Regions from separate parts of the Homo sapiens genome. Here region 2 is linked to region 1. Evidence: fine-mapped expression QTL. Tissue or cell type: whole blood. Region 1 holds a variant in brackets; the other region holds the start of a gene. All regions are shown on one strand. Distances are from middle to middle.

Region 1 (7,882 bases):
CTTGTGATCTGCCTGCCTCGGCCTCCCAAAGTGTTGGGATTACAGGCGTGAGCCACTGCGCCCGACCAAAGCCACTTTTTTTTTAGAGACAGAGTCTTGCTATGTTACCAGGTTGATCTTAAACTCTTGGCCTCAAGTGATCCTCCTGCCTCAGCATGCTGAGCAGCTGGGACTATAAGCATAAGCCACTGCATCTGGCAGGAATACATTTTTCTTTTCTTTTTTTTTTTTTTTGTGGGAGTGCAGTGGCTCGATCTCCGCTCACTGCAAGGTCCGCCTCCCGGGTTCATGCCACTCTCCTGCCTCAGCCTCCCAAATAGCTGGGACTACAGGCGCCCACCACCAAGCCCAGCTAATTTTTTTTTGTATTTTTTAGTAGAGACGGGGTTTGACTGTGTTAGCCAGGATGGTCTCGATCTCCTGACCTCGTGATCTGTCTGCCTCGGCCTCCCAAAGTGCTGGGATTACAGGCGTGAGCCACCGCACCCGGCCCAAAATGTGGTTGATAGTTCACTGAACTGATTTCCTAACCCACTAGTGGGTCACAACACAGTCTGAAAAACTCTATTCTACAGGAAATATGGAGGCAGCTCTCCTTCTCCCACCCCAAATTCTGTTTTAAGTCTGATGACTATGAACCATAATTGATAGTTTCAAAATTCAAGTCATATTTATACAAAGGCAAAATTGGGGAATGATTATATTTTCTAAAGTATCTGTGTTTCAAAACAAGTTAACTTATATAAAGCGCTGAAAATACAGTGCTTAGGGATGCTAGAGAGATAGGAAATGGATTGGAAGAGTTGATGGGGCCTTCTTGGAGAAGGCAGATCTTGAGCAAAACATGAGGGGAAGGAGGAGTGGTGGTTTTACAAGGAGAAGTGGGAGGTGTCAGATCGAGAGGCAGCATCTTCATCAGGAACTGCAGAAACTCAAGTCAGAGGACTTGCGTGCCGGCCATTTCTGCTGTCTGTTTCTGGCATAGGCCTTGCACACACTCTCACCTCTGCCTAGACCACACTTCTTCACCTATTTACAGATACTCATCCATCGTACTTCAGAGTTCAACATGGGGACGTTTCTCAGAACACCATGTCAAATGACCTCTGTTTAATGCTTTTATAGCACCATGTATATCCCCGCTTTGTAACACTCATCACTGGTTGCAGTTTTATATTTATAGATCTGATTATTTGATGAATATGCTTTCTCCCTGACTGAAAGCTATGTGAGGGCAAGGAGTGGGACACTTTTTACTTGTTATAGTCCCTCTAACTGGCACACAATTTATGGTCATTAAATACTGGTATTTGCTAAATGAACCCTGGTAATTTGGTTAGAGTCCAGCCTCCTCACGAGTCCAGCCTCCTCACTCTCTGTTTAGTGCTGCAGGTGGAAGGTGACCTGAGCCTTGGAAAGTGTCAGACTCTTCCTTTTAAACCCCTTTCTACAGAGGAAGAATTCTCCTGCTTGTGGCAGGAATGTGGCTTTTGTTCTCTGGACAGTTCTGCTGACCTCATCCGCCATGTCTACTTCCACTGCTACCACACCAAGCTGAAACAGTGGGGGCTGCAGGCCTTGCAAAGCCAGGCTGACCTTGGCCCCTGCATCCTGGACTTCCAGAGCCGGAACGTCATCCCTGATATCCCTGACCACTTCCTGTGTCTGTGGGAGCACTGTGAGGTCAGCAGGCAGTGCCAGTAATTGGGGTGGAAGGAAGCTGGGGGTCTTAACTCTGATGCCTTGTCCCTTTCAGGGATGCCTTATATTTCCAAGATTCCTGCTAGTATCTCTCTTCCATTTCTTTTGCTCTTTTAAAATTTGTTTATTTTTTACACACAGGCTCTTGATCTGAAGCCCAGGCTAGAGTGCAGTGGTACAATCATAGCTCACTGTAACCTTGAACTCCTGGGCTCAAGCAATCCTCCCACCTCAGCCTCCCAAGTAGCTAGGACTACAGGCATGTACCACCATGCCCTGCTAACTTCTAAATTTTTTGTAGAGACAAGGTCTGGGTGTGTTGCCCAGGCCGGTCTCGAACTCTTGGCCTCAAGTGATTCTCCTGCCTCAGCCTCTCAAAGTGCTGGGATTACAGGGTTTAGCAACCGCACCCGGCCACTCCTCCATTTCTGTGCAGTGCCTTTCCTCAAAATTTCCCATCCCCATCAAGTTAATTTGGGAGAGAGCCAAGAATTCTTCGGGCACATAGGGGTGAGTCCCTCTACCCACCCTCAGTCCTCACCCCAAGTTGCCCCTGGCACAGAATTCCTTCGACAATCCTGAGTGGTTTTATCGGCATGTGGAAGCACACAGTCTGTGCTGTGAATACGAAGCAGTCGGCAAGGACAACCCGGTGGTGCTGTGTGGCTGGAAAGGTAGGGCTGCTTCTTAACTTGTGGCTTCTGGAGGAAACGCTGGGGTTCCTGAAGAGCTGGGACAGAAAGGGATAGGGGTCCTACAGGGGCAAGGTTGACTGCCGGCTGGAGAGACTCAGGGGTACCAGATCCTAGGCAAAACTGGGGTTTTGTGGCAGGAGACTGATAGGGCTTCCTTCCCAGGCTGTACCTGCACCTTCAAGGACCGCAGTAAACTTCGAGAGCACCTCCGCAGCCATACCCAGGAGAAAGTGGTAGCCTGCCCCACCTGTGGGGGCATGTTTGCCAACAATACCAAGTTCTTAGATCACATCCGTCGCCAGACCTCATTGGATCGTAAGTAGTCAGAGGAAGTGGGGTGGATGCAGGCTGTCCTGCTTGGAATGGGTTAGGGGCATGTTTCTAGTGGGGGTGGCCACTGAAGAGACCTGCCTTTTGGCTGCCTCTTCTTTTTGGGCTCAGGCACCTCCCATAGTCTCTTTGCTGATTCAGATTCGTAGGCATTGTTATTCAGTACTTACTGTACCTCGTATCAGTTACTTAGGGAATCCTCACAACAGCCCCATGAGGTAGGCTTCTTATCCCCCTTTTTGCAGATGAGGAAACTGAGGCTCAGAGAGGTTAAATCACTTACCTGAGATCACACAGCTAGTAAGTGGTGAAGCTGGAATTCTAACTCAGGTTCTCTAAGTCCCATGCTCTTTCCATGATACTGTGTCCATTCATAGCTCCCTAAGCTCTCCTTTTCTCCTTGGGTGGTTCCCTTCTGCCTGGGATGGTTCCCCTCTCCTTTCTGTGCCTCTCCACTATCACCTACAGCCCTCCTTTCTTCTGCCTGCCCCACCCCAGAGCAGCACTTCCAGTGTTCTCACTGTTCCAAGAGATTTGCCACAGAGCGGCTATTGCGGGACCACATGCGCAACCATGGTGAGTGGCCTGCGGCCCACAGCCTCCCTCCTGCCCTCCAAGGTTCCACAAGTTCTCACATCACAGCCTCCTCTCTGCTTCTCTCAGTGAATCACTATAAGTGCCCTCTGTGTGACATGACCTGCCCGCTGCCTTCCTCCCTCCGCAACCACATGCGCTTTCGTCACAGTGAGGACCGGCCCTTTAAATGTGACTGTTGTGACTACAGGTAAGGGGGACCAGGGACCAGAAAACAGCTCATGTTCCAGTGTTCCCCATGTCCTCCAATCCCTCCTGATTTCTCATGGCAGCTGCAAGAATCTTATTGACCTCCAGAAGCACCTGGATACCCACAGCGAGGAGCCAGCCTACAGGTGTGATTTTGAGAACTGCACCTTCAGTGCCCGATCCCTCTGCTCTATCAAGTCCCATTACCGCAAAGTACATGAAGTGAGTGGGGCTGGTGTTGGGAAGGACTAGTGGAAGTATGGGGGACCCTGGGGTGAAGAGCTGGTCTCATTTCTCCCTTCCTTCCCCATCAGGGAGACTCTGAGCCAAGGTACAAATGTCATGTGTGTGACAAATGCTTCACACGGGGCAACAACCTCACCGTGCACCTTCGCAAGAAGCACCAGTTCAAGTGGCCCTCAGGGCATCCCCGTTTTCGGTATGTCTCTCAACCCTCCTTCCCAGATTAACACACTTGTTTTTATACCTTTTCAACCAGTTTTAAAAACCTTAATTTGGGTCGGGCGCGGTGGCTCACGCCTGTAATCCCAGCACTTTGGGAGGCCAAGGTGGGCGGATCATGAGGTCAGGAGTTCGAGACCAGCCTGGCCAACATGGTGAAACCCCGTCTCTACTAAAAATACAAAAAGTAGCTGAGCATGGTGGCACATGCCTGTAGTCCCAGCTACTTGGGAGGCTGAGGTGGGAGAATCACTTGAACCCAGAAGGCGGAGGTTGTAGTGAGCTGAGATCATGCCACTGCACTCCAACCTGGGTGACAGAGCGAGACTCCATCTCAAAAATAAATAAATAAATAAATAAAACCTTAATTTGATGGTGGTTTTATGTCTGCCATTTCCATTTAGATTCAAAGAATCCTAAGAATAATGGTGGAGCAAAGCTTATTTTTCTGTTTTTTGAATCTTGTAAGGCATGGTGCCAAACCCAATAAATGGTGCCAAAAAGTCCTGCAGCTGGAACTAGAGCTAGAGTCTAAGGGTTCTGATCCTTAGCTCCAAGGCCTTCTCATAAATCCTTTGACACTTTCACCCTCCAACACAGTCAGTCAGTCTCTGTTTTTCTGGTTGGGTTTCTATATAAAACTTTCCATTTTGAGTAATGATCTTTCCCTCTTGCCTTTTCTTCTACATATTCCAATAAAGACCTTTTTTGTCTTCAACTCCTGTCACTTGGA[T/A]TCCAGGACTTCTTCCATCCCTCATGTTTGTTCCTTACTTTGCCAGCCTCGGCCATTTCTGTATCCCCCTGCCTGGGTTTGCTGCCCTTTATGCTCCTACCTCACCAGGTACAAGGAACATGAAGATGGCTATATGCGGCTGCAGCTGGTTCGCTACGAGAGTGTAGAGCTGACACAGCAACTGCTGCGGCAACCACAAGAGGGATCGGGCCTGGGAACGTCGCTGAACGAGAGCAGCCTGCAGGGCATTATTCTAGAAACAGTGCCAGGGGAGCCAGGACGTAAGGAAGAGGAAGAGGAGGGCAAGGGTAGCGAAGGGACAGCCCTCTCAGCCTCTCAGGACAACCCCAGTTCTGTCATCCACGTGGTGAATCAGACCAATGCCCAAGGCCAGCAAGAGATCGTCTACTATGTGCTGTCTGAAGCCCCAGGGGAGCCTCCCCCAGCCCCTGAGCCACCTTCAGGGGGCATCATGGAAAAGCTTCAAGGAATAGCTGAGGAGCCAGAGATCCAGATGGTTTGAAGGCCGCAGAGCCAGACCATTTCTTCCCCAGGTCCTGAAGTTTGAGCCAGGCAAGTGGCAGTGCCCCTAGTGGGCAGCCGTTGCCAATGGATGCCTTTAGGAGTGGTGCCGAGAGCAGTGTGGTCCACTCTGGCCTGGGTTTGCATCATTCTGCAGACTCTAAAGACTTCCCTTTTCTGCCAGACTACATTTTGTGGGGAGCCTGAGGACTCTGGATTCTTTGAGGGGATCCTGGATGTGTGTGTTCTTGTTAAAGAGGCTGTTATCAGGCTTAACCATAACCCTCAAGATCTGCTTGACAGTGATTAAATCCTTAGCTCACATCCATTCCCATCTTTCGGGCTCCTTAGGCCCAAGGATGGCATGTGACTGGTCCCTGCAAGGGTCCTTTCTTTGTCACCAGCCAAGGCATTGATAACCAAGTAGCCATTTTCCTCTTAAGGTTTCCTCTACAACCCCAAGGACTTTCATGATTATCCTCAGGGACAGGATTGGAGGCATTGAGCGTGTTTATTAACAAATTGTTTTTGGTAATAAAATAAATGCTTGGACTCTTATTTATTTCTTCTTACATTTGGTGGCAGTTTACTAGGTAATGAGGAGATACAGCCACCCAGAAGAGGAGCTGAATAGTTAGGCTTGTTCCCCTTCTGGTGACTCAGGTGGTTTGTTTTTTGTTTGCTTAACTGTCCTGTTGTCTTCTCCTCCTCCCCTTGGTGAAACTTCGCTATTCTCAGAGCGTATGCCATTTCCATGGAGGTCCCAGGTGTTTGGCTGTGAGTGGGCAGTAGTGGTGCTATAGAATGAACAAGAATGGGCTCACTGGGAGGATAGGGCAGCTGACCATGGCCTCACTCTGAATACTGATTAGAACCCAGTGCCTCTAGGGTAGGGGTTCTTTACCTGGGAGTGGGAAGGAAGCTGGGGGGTGGAGAGGATTGGGAAGCCTCCCAGGGAAGGGAGGCAATCAAGTGGTCCAGGAACCAAACTAGAAAATTGTGTGTCTGAATGTGCATTTTCCTGGGGAAAGGATCTGTTTTTTGCTAGATTATCAAAGAGATTGAAACCTCCCAAAATAAGAATCATCATTTCGTCTGGTTCAGCTGCTTCTCAGCACCCTGTGTCCATTTTTATGGTCTACTGCTATGCTGGAGAGGTCAAGGAAATAGTCTTGGGGACAGGAAGCTGCCCAAAAAGGATCTCTGGGCCTTTTTTTGTAAGACCTAATTCTATTACTAGAAAAACTAAGGCTGAATGCAGTGGTTCACGCCTGTAATCCCAACACTTTGGGAGGCTGAGGCGGGCGGATCACAAGGTCAAGAGATGGAGACCATCCTGGCCAACATGGTGAAACCCCGTCTCTACTAAAAATATAAAAATCAGCTGGGCATGGTGGCACACATCTGTAGTCCCAGCTACTCGGGAGGCTGAGGCAGGAGAATTGCTTGAACCCGGGAGGCTGAGGTTGCAGTGAGCCGAGATCATGCCACTGCACTCCAGCCTGGCGACACAGTGAGACTCCGTCTCAAATAAATAAATAAATAAAGAAAGAAAAGAAAAACTGTGTGTGTCTATTTGTGGAAAGAAAAAGATCTCTTCATTAATCCCATCAGCCATTTATTGAGTTCCTACTATAGTCCAGGCACAGGTGCTAAGGATACAAAGATGAATAAAACCCAGGACCTTCCCTGGAGGGACTTGCAATGCAGAAGCAAGGAAAGACTAGGTAAGCTGAGTGATAGAAGTTAATCAGGGTACATTTAGAAGGCTCCAAATAGGAGTAATGGTACTACCTGGGCAAGGGATCAGGAAAGGTTTCATCCAGGAAGAGACCTTCCACCTAACCAAGACTAGATGAAGACTTTAAAGGTTCTAAACTCTGAAAAGATTGTGGTGTCCCATTTTTCATATGTAATCAGAATGAAAATATTAAGCCATGAAACATTTAAAGTTCAACATGATTATACTTAAAACATATATTGTATATAGATTAACTATCAAATTCTGTTTCTAATTTTTTCTTTTATTTTTCAGTTCCCCAGTTTTGCTGGTGTCTAAGCACTGGCGTGGGGTGTCCCTTGAGTAATGCAGCACTAATGACTCTATCCATTCTTCCATGAGCAGTGTCTTCGGGAGCAGGCCAGCATTCTATGAAAAGGACCTTCCCTACTAGTCTTCTCAGTCATGCCCACACCAAATCGCATTGCTCTATCTGGACCATGGAGACAGCAGAAGAGATTCTGGTCTGTTACCATGTGATTCCATTCCCTAGGAGGAGGGGTGACTTGGGATCCTGGACTCAGTATGCATGGCTTAGAAAGTACTGGACCAGGAGTGAGGGGTCACTGTTGAGTAGTCTAGGCAGCCAGAGGCCTCTGGAAGGATACTAAAGGCTGTGGTGGGTGACAGTGGGCTCCTGGAGGGAGGAGGGTGATGATACTAATTTGGTTACCTTAGAATTTCACCTAGAGTCAACCCTGGTCCCAGCATCATGGTGTCTGAAGATTAAGGAGACACCCTGTCTTAGTCTTCCTTAAAGGGGGTAGGGATAGGAGAGAAGGCAGGTGGCCCAGGAGTTGGAAGCAGATAACTTCTTTTCTCTTATTTGTGGCAAGTCCACAACCACAGAGGACTTAGAAGAACTGGGTGGATATA
Region 2 (6,871 bases), 27 kb before region 1:
CCACCCACCTTCTGCCCCAGCTGTAGCAGTTAGTTGCCCGGCAACCCAGCGCAGCACTTCACTGAGGGATTGGGAGTACCCTCAGGTCTTGGATTTAACTCGAGACTTCAGCTTGGCCGTGGATCACTGCATTGTACCTAGCTCCCACAAGGAGGAGATGGAGATTTCCAGGCTGAGGCTCTGGAAAGAGCTGAGGAGGGAGAGGAATCAGACCCACAACTGATTTCCTGTGAGTCTGAGGAACTCCCAGTCAGGTTTCTTCCTGTAGGTCACTGTGCATTTTGCTTGGCCTCCTGCAGGTTGCTGTGCATTTTGCTTGGCCTGTTCCCCTGCAAACAACAATTCACCAGCTTTTTTTTTTTTTTTTTTTTTTTTTTTTTGAGACAGAGTTTCGCTCTTGTTGCCCAGGCTGGAGTGCAATGGCGCGATCTCGGCTCACCGAAACCTCCACCTCCCAGGTTCAAGAGATTCTCCTGCCTCAGCCTCCCGAGTAGCTGGGATTACAGGCAGTAGCTGGAATTACAGGCATGCGCCACCACGCCCGGCTAATTTTGTATTTTTAGTAGAGACGGGATTTCCCTATGTTGGTCAGGCTGGTTTGGGACTCCCGACCTCAGGTGATCTGCCCGCCTTGGCCTCCCAAAATGCTGGGAGTACAGGCGTGAGCCACCACGCCCAGCCAGTTCACCAGCATCTTTATTACCTTTCATTCCCCGACAGGCTCTTAGGCGGCAAATGATTTCCATTTGTCAGAGAGGAAGTCACCACCAGTGAGTTAGGGAAAGGACTCCAATAGCCTAGCGCTTTGTCCACTCTTCCCTCTATGGCATGTTCCAGGAGTCAGGGTCATGTTGACCGTTTTTAAGCCGAAGATAGTTTCTTCTTTCCCTCAAAATCAGATGTGAGGCCGGGCGCAGTGGCTAACGTCTGTAATCCCAGCACTTTGGTAGGCGAAGGTGGGTGGCTCACTTGAGGTCAGGAGTTCGAGACCAGCCTGGCCAACACGGTGAAACCCCGTCTCTACTGAAAATACAAAAATTAGCCGGGTGTGGTGGCACATGCCTGTAATCTCAGCTACTCAGGAGGCTGAGGCAGGAGGATCGCTTGAACCTGGGATGAGGAGGTTGCAGTGAGCCGCGATCATGCCACTGCATCCCAGCCTGGGCAACAGAGGGGAAACTGTCTCAAAACAAACAAACAAACAAACTAAATCAGATGTGAAATGGCTTTTCTACTTGAAAATGGCTCTAATTAACAACAACAAAAACCCAGATATGTATAAAATACATAAATTTTCGTAATTTACTTGCTAGTATTCCACCAGATTTTCAGTACTTATCCCACTGCTATTATTTTTCTGTGTGTGTTGTGTGTATGCACGTGTGCCCCTTTTAAACTAGAAACTCCCGGGAGGCAAGTGTTTTCTCTTCCACAGGGTGTCCCCATGGGGCTAGGAACACAGACATCTGTGTACAAGGAAGGCATCATCACACATAATGAGGCTGAGGCTGAAAGGAGGACTGAGGGCAATAGGTGCATATGGAGGGAGCAATTAGTTGTGACCAGAGTAAGTGGTCTTGAGGAAGAGAAGTATCATTTCAGTAGATTATAAGAGTAGAAGGACCTTTCACAGGCAGCGACAGTGAGACACCAGAAGCTGGTGGAAAGGAGGAGCTTGTGGGATCCCAGAGGAGGCAGCATTCAGTTATCTTGTTGATGACGAGTATACTGAGACTCCCTGGAGGTCTGAGAGCCAGTCTGTATCTATTTCCTTTTTTATTAGGAGGCCAATCCTAATAAATCTTCCTTCCCAGCCTGGTATTGGGAAGCTTTATCTCTTTCTTCTCCAGAGATCATTAGCCCTCCCTACCACCACCCTCCTGGGGAGGGTGGAAGGATGTAATCAAAGACAAGAGAGACTAAGGATTCATCATCCACATATACATGTTACTATCAGAAAATGGTTACTAAGATACTTGTCAGATAATCTGAGTATTTTTGTTCCCATGATGATAAAGTCCCAGTTGATGATCAGACTAATCAGAAGGAGAAACAAACACATGACTTTTGGCTTCACTTGAAATTGTGTGCCTTCCCTGGTAAAAGTTCAAAGCGTTTTCCTGAATGCTGAAGCCGGCCCTAGGATTCACAGACCAGTTGACTTGTCAGTGGCCCTGGACTGAGCAGACAGTGTTTGAGATGCACACCTCTTCTAAGTAGCCTTGAGTGGCTCCCAATGAGCAAGGCCAATCCACTGAATGTGATTGCTAGACAAAGCCTGTCCCAAAAATGTTTCATAGTGCCACAAAGACAATGAGACCCCTCTGGATAGTCTGGGGCTGTGATACTTGCAGGACTCTATCTGTGGCTCTGTCCAGTCAGCTGAATCACTCTTTTTCCTTTTCCTCCCACCTCTCCCCTCTTAGTCTAGAAAAAAGTTGTTAATTAAAAGCAAGCCCCAGGATTTCCCATTCCACTGGTATGGCATGAATGATATTTCAAAAGACAGAAATGGCATAGAAATTCTCAAAGCATACTTGAGTATTTTCTGTTAGACTTCTTAAAATTACAAAGTTTGTTAATCCCTACTATGTGCATAGGAAGCTCTTCAGTACTGTGGAGGATACAAACTAATATAATTGCAGTTGCTTGCCCCCAGGGAGTCTACTTCAGCATATTTGGAGCATCTTGGTTGAATTTGAGGGAAAAGAGATGACTAAGACATGGTTCCCACCCCTAGGCAGCTTCCTGATGCATGGAAAAAGCAGACATATAAACAATCAGCTAGACTCTAAGGCAGAATGTAAGTGCTAGAGGTCTAAGTAATGGAAGAAAGAAGGAGGACTAGGCTGGGCACAGTGGCTCTCACCTGTAATCCCAGCACTTTGGGAGGCCGAGGCGGGAGGATCACCTGAGGTCAGGAGTTCGAGATCAGCCTGGCCAACATGGTGAAACCCTGTCTCTACTAAAAATAACAAAAATTAGCCAGGCATGATGGCGCATGCCTATAGTCCCAACTACTTGGTAGGCTGAGGCAGGAGAATCACTCAAACCTGGGAGGTGGAGGTTGCAGTGAGCCAAGATCTCGCTACTGCACCCCAGCCTGGGCAACAGTGACTTTCTGTCTCAAGAAAAGAGAAAAAAAAAAAAAAAAAGAGGGAGGACTAACTAGGGAGACTCATGTAACTAGGTAGACTCACAGTTCAGATACTGAATTGTGAAGCAGTATCTGGCAGCATAGGACCAAGCACTCAGTGGAGAAGTTGAGGGAATAAATCAAAGAAGTCAGAGAATGGAGATCACTAGGGGGTCTGAGGGTTCCTGAAGGATTCTTGGGGGAAGAGGGTCTTCATAGGGAAAGCTTCTACCTGGACAACTTCCTGCATAACCTGCTCCCCTAAACCCTAGCTGCTCTTCCCACTGACAGCTTCCTCCTGCATCCCTGGTTCTGGCCCTGAGTTCTCTCCTCCCTTGATTTCATGTCTTCTCCTCCCTTTGAGATTAGAAACCCAGACTCTAGGAATCTCCACTGATTTGGCAGTCCAGTGACAATGCATGGGCAGGGCCACAGGAGGTTACCTCATTCACCCCCACCTCTCCCCATCATTCCTTACAGGGAAATCTAGGGAGGCCCAGGCTACCCCACCACCTCCTCTGGCTCAGACAAACCTGTTGCTGACCTGTCAGTTTCTGTCTAGCCCTGCCATCCCACACTTCAGAAGGCATTGTTTATTCTCTTATTCTCATGTGCTCATTCCTCAGACAACTACTTGGGTTTGGGAGAAAGATACTTAACACCTTTCCATCCTACCTCTTTAAGAAAGGGACTGTGTGCCAAAGACCTTCCCACATGTATGAAGAAGGGGCTCTTGGGAGAATGTGAATTCCCCCAGGATTCCTTTGAATCCTTTTGCAGGTATTTCCTTCCCCTGTCCTCAGCAAGCATTGATGAGCCCCAGTCCTGTAGAGGTTGAATCAACTCCTTGAGTCTAGGAAAAGATGGCTTCTGAGGCCAGAGGTTGGGCAGTGTACCTACAGCACCATTTCTTGGGAGCTTGTTGGGATATCACATACTTAGAGTGGCAAGGTCTTGTGGCTGAATCTATTGATAGTCCAGTGCTACATTGCCAGCTCCCTTGTCATTACCACCCCCTCTACACGTGCTCCATAGGCAGGAGCTGTTACTATGGAAATACATTATTTTTAAAAACAGACACACAGCCTGGGCTTGGGAATCTCCAGAACAAACCTACACGAGCAAGGAGGTTAATGGGGCTGTTTCTGGGTCCAAGCTCCAAGAGGAAGGAGGGTGATGATGGTGGGGGGAATTCAAATTCGGTGTTCTACTCTCAACCTCTCCCAGCTTCAGGTTCTGCTTTCTCTCTGTTGACATCAGCTGGACCTCTGCCAGACACTTCTATCTGGGAGGGACGCTCTGCGTCTCCTTACCCTGGGCCTAGCTTCCCCCAGGAAATGGGAAGCTAGAAGTCGCTGAGTCTGGGGGTGTTGGGAGAAGGGGGCGGTGATTTCCACAGGGGTCACCTCCTTCTTAACCTCACAGGCGTCCGACCTGTGGAAATCTAACAAGCATAGGGGAAAGCAAAGGCAGCATCTTAGGTAAGTGAAGTTACTCTTGCCTTGAGCTGAGTGTGGGAGCACCGCGATTGCAAGATGGGGCGAGGTGATCAAAGATCCCGCCTATTTTCAACCCCGGAACCTCCTCCGCTCGCTGCTAGCCCTCCCGCCCTCCTCCAGCGAGGGAGCGCCAGGCTGTCCTGGCCCCGCCCGGCGCGGGTGCGGCTCCTTTAAGGGCGGGTGGGGGCGGGGCGCCGGCGGTGTTGTCAGTGTCAGCTCTGCGCACGCAGCCCTCCCGGAGCCGGTGCCGGCCCGCGAGCCCCAGCGTCTCTGCAGACCAGTCCCCTCCAGGGTCCGGCGGGGCCCGCGCGGTGGGAGGAGTCGGGCACTGGCCGGCGACTAACGGGTCCGACTGCTGACCAAGCTAGGAGAGACCCGGACCACGGAGACAGAGACCCCGGCATCGCGACCCCCGAGGACCTCCTCTCCTCGCCCTGTGGCACCCACTAGTCCTGGGCACTCAGCCGCGGAGAGCCCCCGACCCCGCGCGCCCAGCCCCGGGGGAGCCCACCTCCTCCCCGCGGCCCGCCCGGGCCATGCTCCCCCGGGGCAGCGGGTGAGCCCCAGCCGGGACCGGGATCGGAGCCCGCGCGGAGCATGGATCCGGGCTGGGGGCAGCGGGACGTGGGCTGGGCGGCCTTGCTGATCCTCTTCGCCGCCTCGCTGCTCACGGTGTTCGCCTGGCTGCTGCAATATGCCCGGGGCTTGTGGCTGGCGCGGGCCCGCGGGGACCGGGGCCCGGGACCCGCCTTAGCCGGGGAACCCGCGGGTTCCCTGCGGGAGCTGGGCGTGTGGCGCTCGCTGCTGCGGCTGCGGGCGACTCGGGCTGGCGCCGCCGAGGAGCCAGGAGTCCGGGGCCTCCTGGCGTCACTCTTCGCCTTCAAGTCTTTCCGGGAGAACTGGCAGCGGGCTTGGGTGCGAGCGCTGAACGAGCAGGCCTGCAGAAACGGGGTGAGTTGGACCAAGCGCTTGGGTGGTCCCTTCAGCCTTTCCTTCCAGGGGAGGGACTGACTGCTCGTGCTAGGAGGCCAGACGAGGGTGGGCATAAACTGGGGAACCCTATGGCTTCTCTTCCCCTCCCGGATCAGAGAAAAGGGTGCCGCTAAGGCTGGAGGTTGTAGAAATCCAACTGGGTCCCCAGACTTCCATTTCTGTGGGCAAGGTACTCTGGTTCCAAACCCATGCACAAGTTGCTGTTCTCATAGCAACGCTAATCCCTGTGCCTGAGGGCACTTCCGCCTTGCCTGGGTGCTGGTTGTGTTGGGGCATGGGAGACAGGTGCACCTGCAGAAGGAATTTGCCTGCTTCTCATGCCACCACACCCATTTAACATTTCATGCCCCAAATCCCTGGTGTGGTCAGGCAGATCCCCAAGGAGCCTGAATCACCCCCCTACCCGACAGTAATTTCACTGCTACAGTCAAACACATCCTTCTCCTCCATGCTGGCCTGTGGTTCACTGGGGGTTGGGGAGTGTTCAGGTGGAGAGCAGATTGACAGTGCCCCTACCAGTAGATGAGCTTGGAACTGCCCCTTGAGGGTCAGTCACAAACCAGTCCAGCCTACTTCCTCCCATTGCACCATGGGCATCTGGCCTCCCAGGAAGTGGGGCAGGAAGCGTGGTCATGAGATGGAGATAAGGTGGGAGGTAGAAGTCTCTCTTTTCTGGAGCTCCCTCCCATCCTGACCCAGCAATCTCTCCTTGCTCTCACAGTCCATCAGCTCCTTGCTCAGAGGGTTCTCTATTTCCAGCCACTATGAGTTTGGAGGCTTTACCTTACTAGTTCCCCAGATGCCGGAAACAGAAATGTCCACAAGAAATTGCTCTATTTACTCTGTCCAGCTGGCTGGCTAAAAGCCAGATGGCATCTGTCAGTTTACACCTTGAACCCACCTCTTCATCCAACTCTCCCTGTACCTTGTCCCTCGGTCAGAAGCAACTCCCCAGGATAGCTGACTCAACTGGACATTGGCCTCCCTTGCAGAGGGTGGGGAGATTGAGGTTTCAAGCATCCATCTCCCCATCTTCCTTGGCCTAGCCTTTGAATGAGACAGCTACCAGAGCAAAGGAGTTGGCTTCCCCTGGTTTGCCAAGCAAATGAACCCTATGGATTTGTTTCCTCCATCTCAAGACCCAAGGAAGAGTTGCCAGCCAATTCTGTGCCCCTTCCTCAATTCTGTGTCCGCACTGCTCTCCAGGTGGGGCTGCGGTAGGTTGCTTCCATTACTGTGGACG

What was found. PIP is the estimated chance that this variant, and not a neighbour inherited with it, causes the effect.
Region 2: it holds the start of C2CD2L, and the variant in region 1 is fine-mapped to the expression of C2CD2L in whole blood (INTERVAL, PIP above 0.99).

What each region holds. Positions count from the first base shown.
Region 1 is chr11:119,129,272-119,137,153 of GRCh38, forward strand. It overlaps HINFP (histone H4 transcription factor), which reads left to right. Exons shown (of 10, transcript NM_198971.3): 3 at 1,454-1,683; 4 at 2,264-2,375; 5 at 2,559-2,711; 6 at 3,225-3,302; 7 at 3,390-3,510; 8 at 3,593-3,731; 9 at 3,824-3,948; 10 at 4,813-6,788. The coding sequence ends at 5,227. Among named protein-coding and RNA genes, the nearest start is that of HINFP, 12 kb to the left of the region's middle. The variant T/A (reference allele first, on the strand shown) is at 4,705.
Region 2 is chr11:119,102,510-119,109,380 of GRCh38, forward strand. It overlaps C2CD2L (C2CD2 like), which reads left to right and starts at 4,835. Exons shown (of 14, transcript NM_001290474.2): 1 at 4,835-5,586. The coding sequence starts at 5,233. RefSeq lists enhancers at 1-196, 1-612 and silencers at 4,670-5,119, 5,190-5,469.